Homo sapiens: one gene and its partner. The protein of the gene in region 2 interacts with the protein of the main gene of each other region in a biochemical or structural test. Each region holds a gene or a part of one and is shown on either strand. Other genes may lie near its edges.

Region 1 (8,551 bases), on a different chromosome or scaffold from region 2:
TCACTCAGTATATGCCTGTTGATTGACAGATGGAGATATGTTACCACAACTAAGTTTCTAAAACTTTGGTATGTGGATAGTCACTGAAAGTGGCTTCTGATCCAATTATCTGAGCCTCTATTTTGTCCATACCAACCCTATTTCAGGACCACACTGATTTCCTTTCTGTAAGGACTTCTTTCTTGGGCCTATTCTCCTCTGCTTTCATGGACTTATGAACCTAATGCAATATGACATACTATTTCCTGATTTTAAAAATCATCTTATATGACGTGTAAGGTGCTGAAGTCTAACCTACACCTTAGGTCCACATAAATGTCCCCTGATTTTCTAAGACAGAAAGCATCATTATTAAATAATTTAATTAAAAATTAACTAAATTAAAGTTTTACAAGCTTAGAATACAGTTAGAAATGTGGCTGGGTGATAAAATTTTAGACATTTATTCCAAAAGGGTAGCCTGACTTTCTATGCCTGCTTCAAAAGACACATCATTTTCACTTAATAAACAAGCTTCCTTTTTCAGAAAATTCTTGAACTACATCCAACATGCTGAGAGGTGCCTAAATAAACCTCAGTATCTTAATTAAAAGTTTTGGCTTTCAATTTAATCATGTACACATACAAGTAATATAACATTACAACATTTGTTTTTTTCTTTTTTCTTTTTTACTATAAACCTCTCATTACAGTCGATTTGTATTTAATAAATCTTGCTTGTGTTTTTACATGTATTTTCTCATGTATTTCTTCCTATTGTTCATCTTCTCCCTCATGCCTGAGTTGCTCAAACTATGAATATTTAAGGAGAATGTGAATATCATGAGTAGGTAGCATTTTTCTATGTGTTTTCCATGAAGGGTGTAATGTACAGTGTAAACAATGAACAACAACCCAAATGGAAAAAAATCAGGTTATTTCAGATCTGTTCTTCACTAAATCCAACCTACCAGTACATTAGTGACTCCACATATAAACACTGGCTTCTAAAGAAAGGGTATAATGCTTTCCTCAGAACATTCAACAGATGGAGCAAAGCCTTAGCCAATGAATAGGACACTTGTGTAATAGACATGCTAATGCACCTGGAGGTGTCGTCAGACATTTGGGAATAAATACCTAAGTAGCTGCAATGAGACGGAGCTCATGAGTCACGGCTGAAAAGTAGTCTTTCATACAATTTCATACAAAAATCAGAAAGTGTTTTTTCCCTTCAAAATAGAACGTGTACAGAATGATTCAATGTAATTAGCAACTTCACTGGTATGCTGCATTTAGAAAAAAAACAAATCTTTTTTGGGTCACTGATGTATAACTAATGCCATTTTAGATTATATCGGGTGTCAGGAGGGTTCGATATAGATTATTAAAAGAAAAATTATGTGCCACTGAACTTCCTGCAGTCCAGATTCAATTCTAGTACCATTTTGTCTGTATATGAAGATTTTTCATAATGTTGCACAGATTACGTGCAACACAGCCCCTCTTTCATATGGGAAAAAAAGCATTTCTGACCCGGCAGCAAAAGAGCATGTGTTTTTAGTTTCTCCAGCTGTGGTGAAGTAGTAGGTAGTCATTTGGTGGTCATCAAAAGCACAAAATGTTCAGTTTCACTCTCACTCAAATCTTCTGTATTTTAAGAAGCCAATCCAGTTGGATTACTTTCCTCTCATCCTACCCTCTCATTTTCCATCCCTGCCCTGAGAAAAGACTGGCGGGCTTGTGCGGCCCACTGAGCAGCAGCTGGTGAAGGGAATCGATGGCTGTGTAATATGGCAAGTGACCTGATCCCCCTCCACACCCCAAACCTGGTTTTCGACTTGAAAGGCCAAAGGCTAAAGAAATTGAATCTACATAATTTTGCAGACAGAAAGTCTTCAATGTCAAGAGTATACATTGTTTTTGTCCTTGAAATGTCCTCTCAGTATATGGATAGTCACTAAAAATGGATTTGGATCCAATTATCCTAGCTTCTATTTTGCCCATACTGAGCCCGTTTCAGGGCAACACTGATTTTCTATGAGGACTTCTCTGTCTCATGGACTGATTCTTCTCTGCTTTCATGAATCTATTAACCTAATGCAATACAAAATGCAATTTCCTGAATTCAAAAATCATCTAAAAGGTATAAATAATTGGTCCCATTTAGCCACAGTTATTAGAGCCTCCAGACTTACATACACAAGAACGACATAAGAATTTGGTGCAATTTAAAACCCAAGGTTGGGTATGCTATAAACTTTCTGTCACTATTTAAACTTTTAAACTTTCTGTCACTATTCTGTCACTTAATTAGTAAACAAAATGAGAGTTATTCTACCAGGTAACATGCATTTAAGGTTCATCAGGACAACTAGCACAGCTGACTAGTTTGCCTACACCCAGAGAATGTGTATCTTGGCTGATAACCACAATCTCAAGCATTTGGTACCATGTTTGTGAAACAGCTCCTGAGGGTTGGAAAAAAAAAAAAACCAGACAACTTTTGAACACTTGGGAACAGGGAAGACATTACATATTAATTCATTAAGGTAGGGCATTCCATTGCAGCATATTTAAAACCCCAAAAAGAGAAATTTCCTAAAGTATTTCCATTGTTTAAATATTGACAGGCAATGAGTTTTAAAAAATGATTTTTCAAAAAAAAAAAAAAACATAGATAATGACATCCCTTAATCTGAAAGCTGGGAGACAGGATGAAGTGCCTTCTTTATATCTAACCGTCTGACTTTACCAGCCCCAAGAAAGGGAACCGTTACTTAGGCAGAGGGCCACAGGGCCACAGCCACCCTCCTGGCTTCAAATAACTGGGCTTTTGGCCCCTCAGCCCCTAGTTCATAGATTTCTTGTCGATGGCCAAAGGGCTTCCTTAATTGTAAGGTTACAAAACCAGAAGAAAATGCTCATGTCCCAAGGAGTCCAAAATGTGCCCCTTTTTCTGCTAAAAACAATTAATAACATACTTAGCATATCAAAAGGAACATAGCTGTTACTTCGGGAAGATTTAAAACATTGTCAGCAAAAGGGAAGATGTGCTAGGTCATTATGGACTTTCTTAGTTACAAATGTTCCTCCTTTCAGCTCCACATTCGATTTACCTTCTCCAAACACCTTGGATGTAAAGCACTGTCAAGATGAAGAATTGTATCTTATAAAAAAGAAAGCCAAAAATTCCTAACCAGAAAAACCTTTCCTCCCACAATCTCTTATAGTTTCATGAGATGTCCTGAAAAAGGTAAAAATATAGTGGTAACATGTTTATATACTTCTTTTTAAAATAAATCACTCAAACTGTTCATTGTACTTGAACAATATTTTGTCTTTGAAATAGCATGAAAGGCAAAGGCAAAACAGAGACAAGCTATAATTTATTTACTATTCAGACAAGACTAAAATCATTTCATCAAAAACCATCTTTTAGCCCAATGACGGATTCACTGCCCTAACAAAACTGTGCTCAATATAAGATAAAGAGCATGAAGTTTTACCTGAGTGTCTATGGGAAGCCATGGCTCAGAGACCAAGTTCAGGAGCAGCACCTAGACCAGTCTTCCCTCAACCCCAGCTGATAAGGCTGTGGCTCATTTGTGAACATACATTTAAGGGGAAGCGGCTAACACAAAAATAACCGAGAGCAGATGTCCCACCCCTCCCCAGAGATCACAACCTTAATCCCACTAGAAAATTCTTAACCATTTTAGGTGATCCAAGGGAGAAGAATAGGACCCAGTAAAAATACCAAACGCTACATATAAATACCTGCGGGGCTACTCAGCATCCAAATTAGCTCCAGAGCCAGAGAGGCCACATAGAAAGTCATCCCTGTACCGGAATAAAATTTGGACTCGGCTCTGGCATAGCTTAACGCTGAGCCAACCTTATTAATCCACTTTATATGCCTCAAGAGCTTGCATTTGGCCCTGTAAATAATACATTTTTGTGCTGTTAATGATAAAAGTAACTCTAAGAGATAGACTTATGTTACCAGTGTAACTCAAGGAGATTAGACAGTATGAATATAGAGATTAAGGGGATTATAGATGTTGTCACTCTATGTCCTCCTTAGTATGTTCCAGAGATCAGCAGATTACTGTACAGGAAAGGAGAGTGATCGTAATCTCCCCACCTCCTTAACGGCAGACAGCACAGAACAAGATGGGGAGACTATGCCTATCCCCATCACACACACAATGAAGACATTTTGTCTCACAAACTCAACCTCTTGTTTTTCAGCATCAGGGACAATAAAAGGAAAAACATGAATGAAAATGAAGACATCAACCTAAAATGTTGTAATAGCTCAACAGGCCATCAGATGTCTGGGGGCTGGCTATTAGGAGCATGTTCTAGGAAAAGAAAGCCCCCAAGTCCCTCCAGGACCTTCTTCCACATTCCTTCTCTGGCCTTACCCTTAGCCCCCTTTCCCTCACTCCCACCTCACTGGCCTCCTCACTGTCCCCTGTGCCCAGAGTCATGGTTGTTCCTTTCCCTACTTCAAGTCTGCTGGTATTGCACTGATTTCTCTCCTTGCTGTCTGATCTCCTGCTTTGCTCCATGAAGGCAGGGATTTAGTACTGGAGCTCACTGCAGTGGCCCCAGAGCCTAGAACACTGCCCAGCTCCCAGGAGGCTCTCAATAACTATTCCTTGAAAGAATGAACTAAATAACTGAAAAATCCATCAAGCCTCCAAAACATAGTCCCACCTGCAATCCTGAAAGTGGTTTTGGCCACTCAACTTCAAGGAAGGCAGCTGACCTTCTCGCTGGTACAGACACCTTTATAGCCACTGTCTTGTTTAAGTGGTTTTGGCCCTATTCACACATCTCCCCTACCAGGTTGAGGGCCAGGGCAGTGCTTTGCTTGTCTTCATGTTCCTATAGCACACAGTAGGTGAGCAGTAAATGCTCCATGAATAAATGAATGAATGAGTTCCCCAATTCTTACGATCTTCAAATGTTTAAGGAAAAGTTATTCTAAAAGACAACTGACATCAGTAACTCCCAGTTAGCTAGAAAATGACACAATAAAAGCCAGGTTGTTACGAGTAAATTTATTACATGTTAGAGGAAAAAAATAAGCCTGGGAAAAGAAGAGAAGCTACACTGTGCTCTGGCTCCACGCCTTTCTAGTCTCTTTCTCATCCAGCCTGATTAAATTATGGTGCGGAGATTAGCCAGTTGTAACAACACCACACCCCTAAAATAAACTGAAACTTTTCACCTAGAGGAAATTCTCTTACTTTATTAGATGATTAACCTTAATGAACCCTGAATTTTTTATTTTAGCAAGTTATATTTTTAGGAAGAGCCCATGTATGTTGAAATGCCTCTCTTGCAGCGCTGTGAACAATAGGCTTGGTGTGCCAAATACTTTCCTTTAGGAAGTCAATTCCTGTTTCAAGCTATGCATCAGGAAGTGTCTTCTTTTAGGCAAGTATGGTAGTTCTTTAGGTTTCTGATCATTTTGAAAAGTGACAACAGAATATGGATAGACAGCTTTATGAAAGTATCAAAAAACAAATCTGTTTTGCCTAAAATACAAGAGAAAATTCAAAGACAAGAGAATCACTTTTTGACCACCATGAATTAGTCAACTATGACCAGCCAGGATGGACTGGGAGCTTGGGCCTGCAACAATAGCATTTATTCCAGTTACTTCCATTTGCATCAACCAGGTAACTGTGCCCTCCTAAAAACTTCATGAAGCATGACCACTACCTGCTCTGACATCTGGCCCTACTGCAGATGTCCTCAAGCCACAGAATTAGACCTTCCACAAAACCAAGACAGAAACAGCCCCTTGCATGATGAGAAACAATTTCTTAGGAAGAATAGTTGGTAACTTTGTCCTGTCTTGGATCAGTGGCTCAGAACCCTTGCTGGCTATTTCACAGGTACCTGGAGTCACGGGTTTCATTGGCATATTAGTCAATCTTGTTATATATTAACAGTATGATGTTTAATAATATCTTTAAGAATCACTGTACTGTTTACAACGCACCTTTATATACTATTGGTGGAGTTGGCTGGTGTTTGGGAGCAACTCTCTTTGGTGTATGATGGTTACATTTCAGGCCTTCTAGTCTCACACTCTAGCAGTATCCGGACGCTTTTTTCAGTGAGTGCTAGGTATCAAACTCCCTGTTTCCCTTCCATGTGACCCTCTGCGAATCATTTACTTCAGGGTTTATCTACACATCCTTATGGTCCTACTATCTGCAGATACATTATGACCTATTATTGGGTTAACCTGTAGATAATGCCGCCCCAGCCATTGCTTTATTGTATATGACAAGCATTTATTGGACAGATGCCCTACTATGTGGTGCAAGGTATTTTACTGGTCACAAAGAATAAAATACAGTCCTTACTTTCAAGTGTAACAAGATAAATATGCAAATGACTACTATGCAAGGCAGAGCCTTACAAGTATTACAAGAAAGGTATAAAGTGTTACTGACATTTATCACAGGGAGAGATCACATCTGGTTTGGAGATGAGAAAAGACTTGATGGATGTCACGGCATTTGACCTGGTCCCTGAAGAATGATTAAGACTTTGGCATGCAGACAAGGGGGAGGGAGTGTTCCAAGAAAATGGTACCATGTCACCTAAGGTATGAGAAAAACACAGGACGTGTTCAAGAAGCAGGATGCAGCTGGGGGGGGTTGGGGTGTGACAGAAGCACAAGATAAGGAAGTAGTAGGACCGAAAGCTAGAGAGGAGGGAAAGCCACACACGGAGGATCTTTCTGCAACTGGTGCAAGGGGAGAATGAGATGGAGTCATGCAAGCAGTGATAAGAAGAGCAGATCTCAGAGAAGAGAGGAGGCAGGGAAGACAGCACAGGGTAATGCAATTGTCCACTGAGATGCAAGGAAAGACTGAAAGAATGAGAGGCAGGGGCAATGGGCATGGAAAGGAAAAACTAGATATAAGGGACACTGTGACAGGGCTACAAGAACTGAAAGAAGGGGAAGGAGCCAAGGATCTCTCTGAGGTTGTGACTCTGGGTGACTGGGAAAATAATGGGGAATATGGGAGGCAGAGCTGGTGTAGGGAAGAATGGCACTTTATTTTAGACTTCACAATGAGTTTCTTCTGAGATGTCAATAATGAACCCCCTTTAATGGGATCCCAGTTATCAAGGAGCGAGAGAGAACAGTAAGATTACAGTAGAATCACGTTTGTGGGATTTCTCACACTGCAATCTAATCCTAGCCTCTCTACCTCAGAAACACCACTGGGAGGATCAAACTTCAAAAGTTCAAAGTGGTGCAACCGAAGAATCAAACACGGCAAATTCAGTGACCCACTTAGCCCACATTTCAGGACTTCCTCATTCACAGCTTGACTTGTGGTCACCCTTCTCCCTTTACTAGATTTTTCTTTTCCTGAAGAAATTTCCAAATGGTTAAAAACTTATTCAGACAATTACTGGCCATTAGTCATGGCCAGGGGCAAGAGGCTGATAACAAACTGTAATGGAGTCTTTGTGGATTTCTCCGTGGTTTCATGTCCAGTTGTTTTTTTTTTTTTTTACATGACTCTTCTTTCCCTCATATCTACTACTAATAAATTAATAGACTGCAAGTTTTTTTCTCAATATAATTTTGTCAGGCTACTTAATCCCTCTGCCAACAATTTCTCCTGAGTGAGTCCAACTGCAAGATTAAGGCAACTAGTCATGCACTATGATATGATGTGATTCAATGTTGAGCTCTCCAGAGTATTTCTTGTCCTATGTACTCTTGCCAGAAAAAAGCTCAGAACAGCTTCAGCCATCTCATGTTCCTGTCAATCTTTAAGGTGGGAAGAGTACTTTTTCCTACTGACACGTCCAATTTTGCAAAGTCACTGCTTAAATGTCACAATTCATGGCATACCCATCAGAGAGTAAAATGAAGGAGCACCCCTGGAACCCCAAGAGGGGGGATTTGGTCATGTAAGGTCCTAATGAAAACAAACCTGAAATTCAGCCTCCCCAAAGGGTCTCTGAATCTCAGAGAAAAGGAAAAGGTATGAAAGAAGACCTGTAACAAATGAGAAGATACATGAAATAAAGGACACTGTAAACAGCAAAGCACCTGGAAAATGCTAATTAACTCCACTGAAGACCTGTTCATTTCACAGTTGACCAGGGCTTAGAATTTTCCTTATAATATTCACAGAGAGATTACGAAGCATGAGCCATGGCCCCTGTCTTTTGATTTTTGGTAATGTCATGATCAGTAACAGTTTTAAATGTCTCTTGTCCCCAAAGTCTGTGCCCTTCCTGTGTTACTACTAGACTTTTACCAAGAGGTAGGAACTATCCTAACCACATCCTACAGATACTTTATGGGCCTATAACCAGAAATCACTATCAGGAAAACACCGAACAAATGACTTTCAGAGCATGCCTAGGATGATATTTTTCAAAAAACAGAAGTGGCAAAAAAGTAAAAGAAGTAAAGAAAACAGAAACAAGAAAATGTTTTAGAAAGAGATATATAACATAAATACAGAATCTAAAATCAAAGGAAAATAAATGTTTCAGGAAACTGAGAAGC
Region 2 (7,824 bases):
TAGGGGGAACAGGCACTACTATTGGCCTTGTGTGAGTGCCAGTCCACTTCTCTTTAATCCTTTCATATGTTCCTTTCTTGAATCTTGGGTAGTTTCCTCATAAATGTGCACTGATCTTTGCTGAATACTTGAGCGTGTTCCTCTGCAGAGCTCCAGGGGGACTCTCTGTGCAGCTCTCTCCTCCAGTATGTATAGTATGTATCCTATGAACTCTAGCTGCCTTGGTCTCCTTGTACAATGGGAGTCCTAAACTTAGGGAGTCCACTGGGTTCTGTCCAGGTTTTTCTTCCTTGTGCCACTGCCTGGATACTCTTTTATGGCAATAAGCTTGAGGCAATTATAGGGCTTATTTCATTTGTTTATCATATTTCATAGTCATTGTCTTTCACGATCTGATGTCCAATGTCTTGAAACCCATTGTTCACATATTTTGTCTATTTTGGGGGTTATTTCAAGTGAGTAGGTAAATCTGGTTCCTGTTATTCAATTCTGGTTGAAAGTAGAAGTCTCATTCTGCTTTTTATTATTTAATTTTATTTTTAACATTAAAAAAATTTGTTTTGAGATAGAGTCTCACTCTGTCACCCAGCTGGAGTGCAGTGGCGTGATCTCGGCTCACTGCAACCTCTGCCTCCCGGGTTCCAGCAATTCTTGTGCCTCAGCCTCCTGAGTAGCTGGAATTAGAGGCATGCTGCCACCATATTTGGCTAATTTTTTTGTATTTTTAGTAGAGATGGGGTTTCTCCATGCAGGCTCAGGCTGGTCTGGAACTCCTGGCTTCAGGTGTTCTGCCTGCCCCAGCTCCCAAAGTGCTGGGATTACAGGCATGAGCCACCATGCCCAGCCTCATGTCTTCTTTTTAAATGTAATTTTTCTTTTTTTGCTTTTATTTTTGTAGAAAGCCACGGAGTCACACTTGAGCTGGCACTACTCTACCATTTCACCCTCACTTGCATTTCTCCCAATCATTCACTTTGCCCCAGCCATGCTGGCTTTCCTTCTGTTCCTCCAACACATCAGGCTTATTCTCTCCCCTTGGCCTTTGCACTTGTAATTGCCTCCGTATGGAAATGTCTTCCGTTTGATCTTCACATAATGGGTTCCTTGTTCTTCACAGAGGCTGCCATTGACTATGCAGTTACTTGCTATTGTATCATTCTCTTTTATTATCTTCTTGTACTTATTACTATCCAAAGTGACTTTGTTCATTTATTTATTTAATAATTCATTTTCTTTTTCATCCCCCCAATTTCATTAGAATAAAAATGAGGCTTTTTCACTGTGCATCAAAACATGCTTTGCTACATAATAGTCAGAAATATGAGAAGTAAATTAATGATGATCAGATTTGCCTGAAAATCAGTCATCTTTCTTTTTCAAAGGAATTACATCTTTACTGTACTGCTGTACATTTATTTGTTTTCTACCTTCATCTGAATAATGGAGGGCAAGGGGTGGGGTAGGCAGTGTGTCTGCATATGTGTGTGTGCATGTGAGTGTGTGCAAGCATAAAACAAACCTTATCTCCCCGGCTCCACATGGCTTTAGGAGGTGGTTCTCCGCTGATGGGGATCTCAAGACGAAGCTTGTTTCCTGCAATCACTGTCACTGTGTTGTCAGCATCAAGACCATCCAGGATGATCTTAGGAGGATCTAGAATATTAAGCATAGTCTTTGTTATCAGACAGTCATTTCTGTGTAAATATCTGCACTAATGTTTGGCTAGTATGATGGTAGTAACCAATATTTTATCTAATCAAAAAGAATATAAGAGGAGTCAAGATAGTTGGTGCCTGGCACCTTGCAAAACCATTTTATTGTAAGGTGTTGGTATAAGTCACCAATCTTTCTGATTGGTGATTAATACCAATTGATGTATTTTTCCTTAAATGTCACTTAGTTTTGAATATATTATAATTCCATGGTAAGCAAAAGCAAACAAAAAAGAACACAACTATGCAATGAATTATTTTATCTACTCACCAATAACATGAACTTTGGCAGGCAGAGTAACATTGTAGGCATCAGGTGCAAATACATAATCACCTTCATCTTCAGTGAGGGCATTGGCTATCACTAACTTGTGGATCCTAAGGAAACAAGGAAAATGTATTTCTAAGACTCCAAAGATCTAGTTTATATATGACCCAAGCTGAAAAGACACTTGACCTTTATCTGATTAACTTCTTTAGTGCAGGAAAGAGAGGGAGAGAGAGAGAGAAAGAGAGAGAGAGAGAGAGAGGATGAGAAGCCTTAATTATCCTACTTATTGATTCAAATTAAATCTTTATTTTGGACTATATGGAATTATCTCCACAAATAGAATCTGCTTATTGTATATGCAGAGTCTATTATTCTTTTTTTTCATCTCATAGCTTTAAAAAGGCTAAAATAGAACATATCAATAATGCTATACTTTAAGATTCAAGAGATGCCAAGAATAATCTTGATTTTGGCTTTACATCCCAAACCCTAAGAACAATAGCTCTTAACTTTATTGGGGTCACAAACTAGTGAATATCTGATGGACACTATGAATCCTTTCTGTGTAAACAGTATGTATTTTTGTACACATAGAATTTTCTCACAATTTCACAGGAGTTATGGGGCTTCCTAAAGTTCATTTATGATACCCTAAAAGCCCATGAATTCAAAGTTAAACTCTTGCCTTAGATCTTTGCCAGATTCTAGGATATTATGTCCCCTACGCAAATAAAGATTTGTGGGAAGGCATTGTGACACTTATTGGTTAGAGACGGTTAATCCATTTGATCAGGTCCTCAATTAGAATTCAGTATTTTTCCTCTAACTTCATGTTTATTATTTATTTTAGAGACAAGGTCTCTCATTCTGTTTCCCAGGCTGAAATGCAGTGGTGTGATCTCAGCTCACTTCAACCTCCCCCTACTGGGTTCAAGCCATCCTCCCACCTCCCAAGTAGTTGGGATTACAGGTGCATGCCACCACGCCTGGCTAATTTTTGTGTTTTTTGTAGAGATGAGGTTTTGCCATGTAGCCCAGGAGCTCTTGAACTCCTGAGCTCAATTGATCCGTCTGCCTTGGCGTCCCAAAGTGTTGGGATTACAGGCATGAGCCATGGTGCCTGGCCTCTAACTTCATGTTTAAATGGAAAAAGAGTCAATGGATTTTGAATAGACAAAGTACCATAGTGTGAGGTACAGATACAGGATTATGAGTAGGACATGCTATACAACAGAGAAATCACACCTTCTTGCTAGTTGGAAGCGAAGAATCAGGAATAGATGATCTCCCTATGGCTACCCTTCAAATATCCTCACCAAATATGTAATTTAGAAAATGGAGAAAGTAGAAATGGGACCAAACCTCACTTGCGGGTCACCTGGCTCGCTTACCTTCCCTTGTGAACCACCTTTAGACGGTCACTCTCCTGAACAGGTAGGCCATTTTTAGTCCATTTTCCTGGTATGTTTTCAGAGATTTCACACTTCAGGCAGATTTCTTTTCCAAGATTTACAGTCTGATCAGTCAGAGGTGTCAAAATCTTCAGAGGTTTCACTGTAGAAATGATAGACCATCACAAATGCCAAGCCCAAACTCCCAACAGGCCAAGATGGTGGCATTTCACAATGGTATAGTGAGCTCTACTACAATGTTTGTTTTGAAAGTGAGAAGCTGTACCAATGCAATTAATATATTAGAGGATAATTTCACATTTGATTCTGTACAATTTCATTCCTTAGAAAAACTAGGTGAATGCAGAAAATTGCATCCAGCTGAAATGACCCAGCAAGGAATGCACAAAATCTGCAGACTCACACCTCAAACATCTATCAGCTACCTCAGTTCATCCATGTGATATAAGCCACACCCATTTACATCTGAGGTCACAACTACTCATCAGATTTTGAATAATCCTCTTTCTACTGCTTCACAACAGTTCACAAGCCACAACACTTCCAGCATTAATTCTGTAAGCAAATCTCAGGTCTTTTTCAACATTAAGTGCCATATTTATTATATTTATTAACCATTTAGCATGTGTAAAACTGTGCTACTACTTTTTACTGGGTTCTTATATTTTAAAAAATATGTCGCTGACTGATGTGGTTTGGCTGTGCCCTCACCTAAATCTCATCTTGAATTGTAGTTCCTATAATCCTCACATGTCATGGGAGGGACGTGGTGGGAGGTAATTGAATCATGGGGGCGGTTACCCCCCTGCTGCTGTTCTCATGATAGTGACTGAGTTCTCATGAGATCTGACAGTTTTATAAGGGACTTTTGCCATTTTGCTTGGTACTTCTCCTTGCTGCCACCATGTGAAGAAGGACATATTTGCTTTCCCTTCTGCCATGATTGTAAGTTTCCTGAGGTCTCCCCAGCCATGCGGAACTGTGAGTCAACTGAAGCTTTTTCCTTTATAGATTACCCAGTCTTGGGTATGTCTTTATTAGCAGCATGAGAACGGACTAATAAACCAGCAAAATTCTTGAGTGTCATACCCATAATCCCATTTCCCCTACAAACCCTATGGTTTTTACTGCATGACTTTGCATAGCATAATTATTTTTAGAAATGCACATGTTACATCATAGCAGAATGGATTATAATTGCTTTAAATGGATACAAATATCAGATAAGGATCTGTCTATGGCTGAAAGACTTCTTGATGTTAAACTAAAATGGCCACAGATCCATAAAGCATAAGGAATGTATTGGGATTGATCCTGAATAATTCAATGATTATATGAACTGCAACTGGACTAAGCAATAAATGTGGAAGTAAGATTTCTGCTCTTTTTGTGACATCATCTTGAGATATTTGCTGTTTTAATTTTTATGGCAAATTGGGAGAGATTCTGCCATTGCTAACTGACTAGAAGTAGAGGGCATTGAGGGAAGTACATTAATTCTCTCATGCCTCTGAAGCCTACTAGCAAATTAGCTCTTACAATCTTCTCAATTGAGCCCTTTTGGTTTGAATTACTTTCTTCTCATGCCAAATGTAATTGCAGAGTGTTGAATGGTTATTTGATGAATAGCTAGCTAACATTATCAGGATATGACATCGTATCTAAGTATTTATCCCCTATTTTTACGGTCTTGGAATTATAACTCTTCTGGCAGGTGATTTTTATACTTCCTTCCTAATATTGGCGCTCTACTATTAAATTGAGTCGTGGTTCCTTCCTTAAATATCCTGATTGATCTGACATAGACACTTAGCTGGAATGAAATCCATTTTACATACTTAAAAATCATCGCAAATAGAAATCAAATAGAAACTTTTCTGAAACCGAATTAACACAACCATCATTAATAAGCCCACTGAGAAGACATCTAAAGAAGTCTCACTTACAGTCAACACTAAGTTTAGCAGATGATTGTCCTCCTGTTGTCATTACTGAATATTCTGCAGCATCAGCCTTTGTTGCTCCCTCTATGATCAAGATGTGTTTTTTACCCTCAACTCTAATTCGGTATCTTGATTTTGGACCAGGGATAATCTCTTCACCATTCTTAAACCTGAATTAAGATAAAATATTAAAAAGGTTTGTAAAAGATCCTTCAGGAAAAATACCTTGTCCATCTTGCTTATTGCAATATCCTGAAGAATTTCTGGAGGATATGAGACACACAAGAACTATTTGTTGAATTAAAAAATGTACGAATCAATCTCTGTATCCATCAGTAGATTCATAATGTAACAAATATTGTCTACAAAATTGTGTTAAAAGAACACGAGCCACCTGCTCGCACTCAAGATGAATCAGGTGCAACTGCTAAGAGTGGATATTACCCCCATGTAGGCTCTTGAAGCACATTAGTAAGAATATCATTTAATGCATTTTAAAGATAACTATGATTCTCTATTAGAATGAACAATCTACACTGTACCAATTACTACAAATCCTGCTGTGTAATTTACTGTACCTTTCAACATAACATTTCATTTTAAGATTTAAAATTTCTAGTTTTTAATTTTAAGATTACTCACAAGGAACCTGAGAAAACATTCCCCACCTGAGCAAAACAAATAAACTCTTATTTCTAAAAGCAATTGGTGATTCTCAGTCTAAATTTTTTTCCCCTGAGGTACTATGAAAATAAAGTGACTAGGGGTTACATGAAAAACACATGTAAATATGTACTTAAAAATCATTGCAAATAGAAATCAAATAGAAACTTTTCTAAAACCGAATTAACACAACTATCATTAGTAAGCCCACTTAGAAGACATCTAAAGAAGTCTTACTAAACTTACTAAACACTAAATATGTTTTTTCATGTAAGTTGCCAATATGGCATAGTGAGAGGAAGCCTGCTATAAAGGTTAAGAGCATCCATAGGCTTTGGGGTCAAATAGACTTGGGTAAACTTGAGTCATCCACTTAGTATTAAGTACCCACTTCCCTACGTGCTTACCCACATAGATCTCTGGTTCTTTTTTCAGTCTCATGAGTGGAAAAACCCCAGTATATTAGTATACTTTTATTTATCATCTCTACTAACACAAATGAGGTGGAGATTGTTTTCAAAGGTTTAAAAGCTATTTGTACTTCCTGTTCTATCAACTATGAAGGTCCAATTTTTTTGTCTATTAAACATGGACAGACTTCATTAAGGCTATTTACCATTTTACATTGGCATCATCTTCAGACACCTCACATTCTAATTCCACTCTCTCCCCACAATAAGCAGTTGTATCTTCCAGCTGTTTGGTCACCATAATTGGAGGCTCTAGTATACAAAAAGGGGAAATCAGAATCATTAAATATCCAAAGCCTATCCCATGAGCCCTGATTTCTTCACAGATGAAAAACCAACAGTGAGAAAGCAACATCTATGGTTGACATGGTGATAACAGTAAGTGAGGTTTTTGTTTTTGTTCTTGTTTTGAGACAGAGTCTCACTCTGCTGTCCAGGCTGAGGTGTAGTGGCGTGATCTTGGCTTAATGTAACCTCCACCCCCTAGGTTCAAGCAATTCTCCTGCCTCAGCCTCCTGAGTAGCTGGGATTACAGGTGCATGCCACTACACCCAACTAATTTTTGCATTTGCAGTAGAGACGAGATTTTACCACATTGGCCAGGCTGGTCTTGAACTCCTGATCTCAAGTGATCACGTGCCTTGGCCTCCCAAAGTGCTGGTATTATAGACATGAGCCACTGTGGCTGTCTGTGAGTTTTGTTTTGTTTTGTTTTGTTTTCTATGTCTGTTCTTGGCAAAATAAATAGCAGGCAACCCTGGGTAAATTCTCCCAATTTTTTCACAGTTCTCCAAGTCAAATCAATTATTGTTCTCAAGAACAAACAAAACATATATCAAATATTATTCTTTTAGCAAAGAAGATACTAAATGCTAGACATTTCTGATGAAGGAGAATATATAAAACTCAAATCTTTGATCCTAGTTCCAGATGGATGACAGAGATCTCAGGGTTGTCTGTCATCAGAAGCCCTCATAAAGAAAATAAGGAAGACATGGCTGTATTCACACCCTCCAGCTCTTTTCACAATGTCTTAGTAAATGATAATTTTCAGTGTGCTTGGTACCAACCACTTATTAATGAAGCTGGTTTCAAGAGAAACCTATTTGTGATCAATTGAGTGTGTGAAACAAGGATTATCCAGTAAAATCTGTTGGGTTTCAAAGCTATAACTAGAATAATTATTTTTGCAAGATAGTGCTTGGCTTGAGTCAAAACATGAGGCATTTGTACTCAACAGGTTCTCTTTCTCCCCTCTGCTGTTCTAGTCTTCAACAAACCAGAAGACTCATTAGGATCCATAATAGCTGCCAGTGTAGAGGAGCCTCAGTTACTTTCACTTTGATCATTATC

Evidence for each region.
Region 1: the proteins of MYBPC1 (region 2) and FHL1 form a complex in vitro, tested with the Homo sapiens proteins (one study listed by BioGRID).

The regions. Positions count from the first base shown.
Region 1 is NC_000023.11:136,192,072-136,200,622, reverse strand, and holds the start of FHL1 (four and a half LIM domains protein 1), read right to left. Parts: upstream 3,577-8,551; 5' UTR 3,511-3,576; coding exon 3,489-3,510; intron 1-3,488.
Region 2 is NC_000012.12:101,646,944-101,654,767, reverse strand, and holds part of MYBPC1 (myosin-binding protein C, slow-type), read right to left. Parts: exon of another isoform or gene 7,740-7,824; intron 6,724-7,739; coding exon 6,618-6,723; intron 5,509-6,617; coding exon 5,342-5,508; intron 3,953-5,341; exon of another isoform or gene 3,897-3,952; intron 3,538-3,896; coding exon 3,375-3,537; intron 2,091-3,374; coding exon 1,984-2,090; intron 1,654-1,983; coding exon 1,520-1,653; intron 1-1,519. UniProt on the Homo sapiens protein: Thick filament-associated protein located in the crossbridge region of vertebrate striated muscle a bands. Slow skeletal protein that binds to both myosin and actin.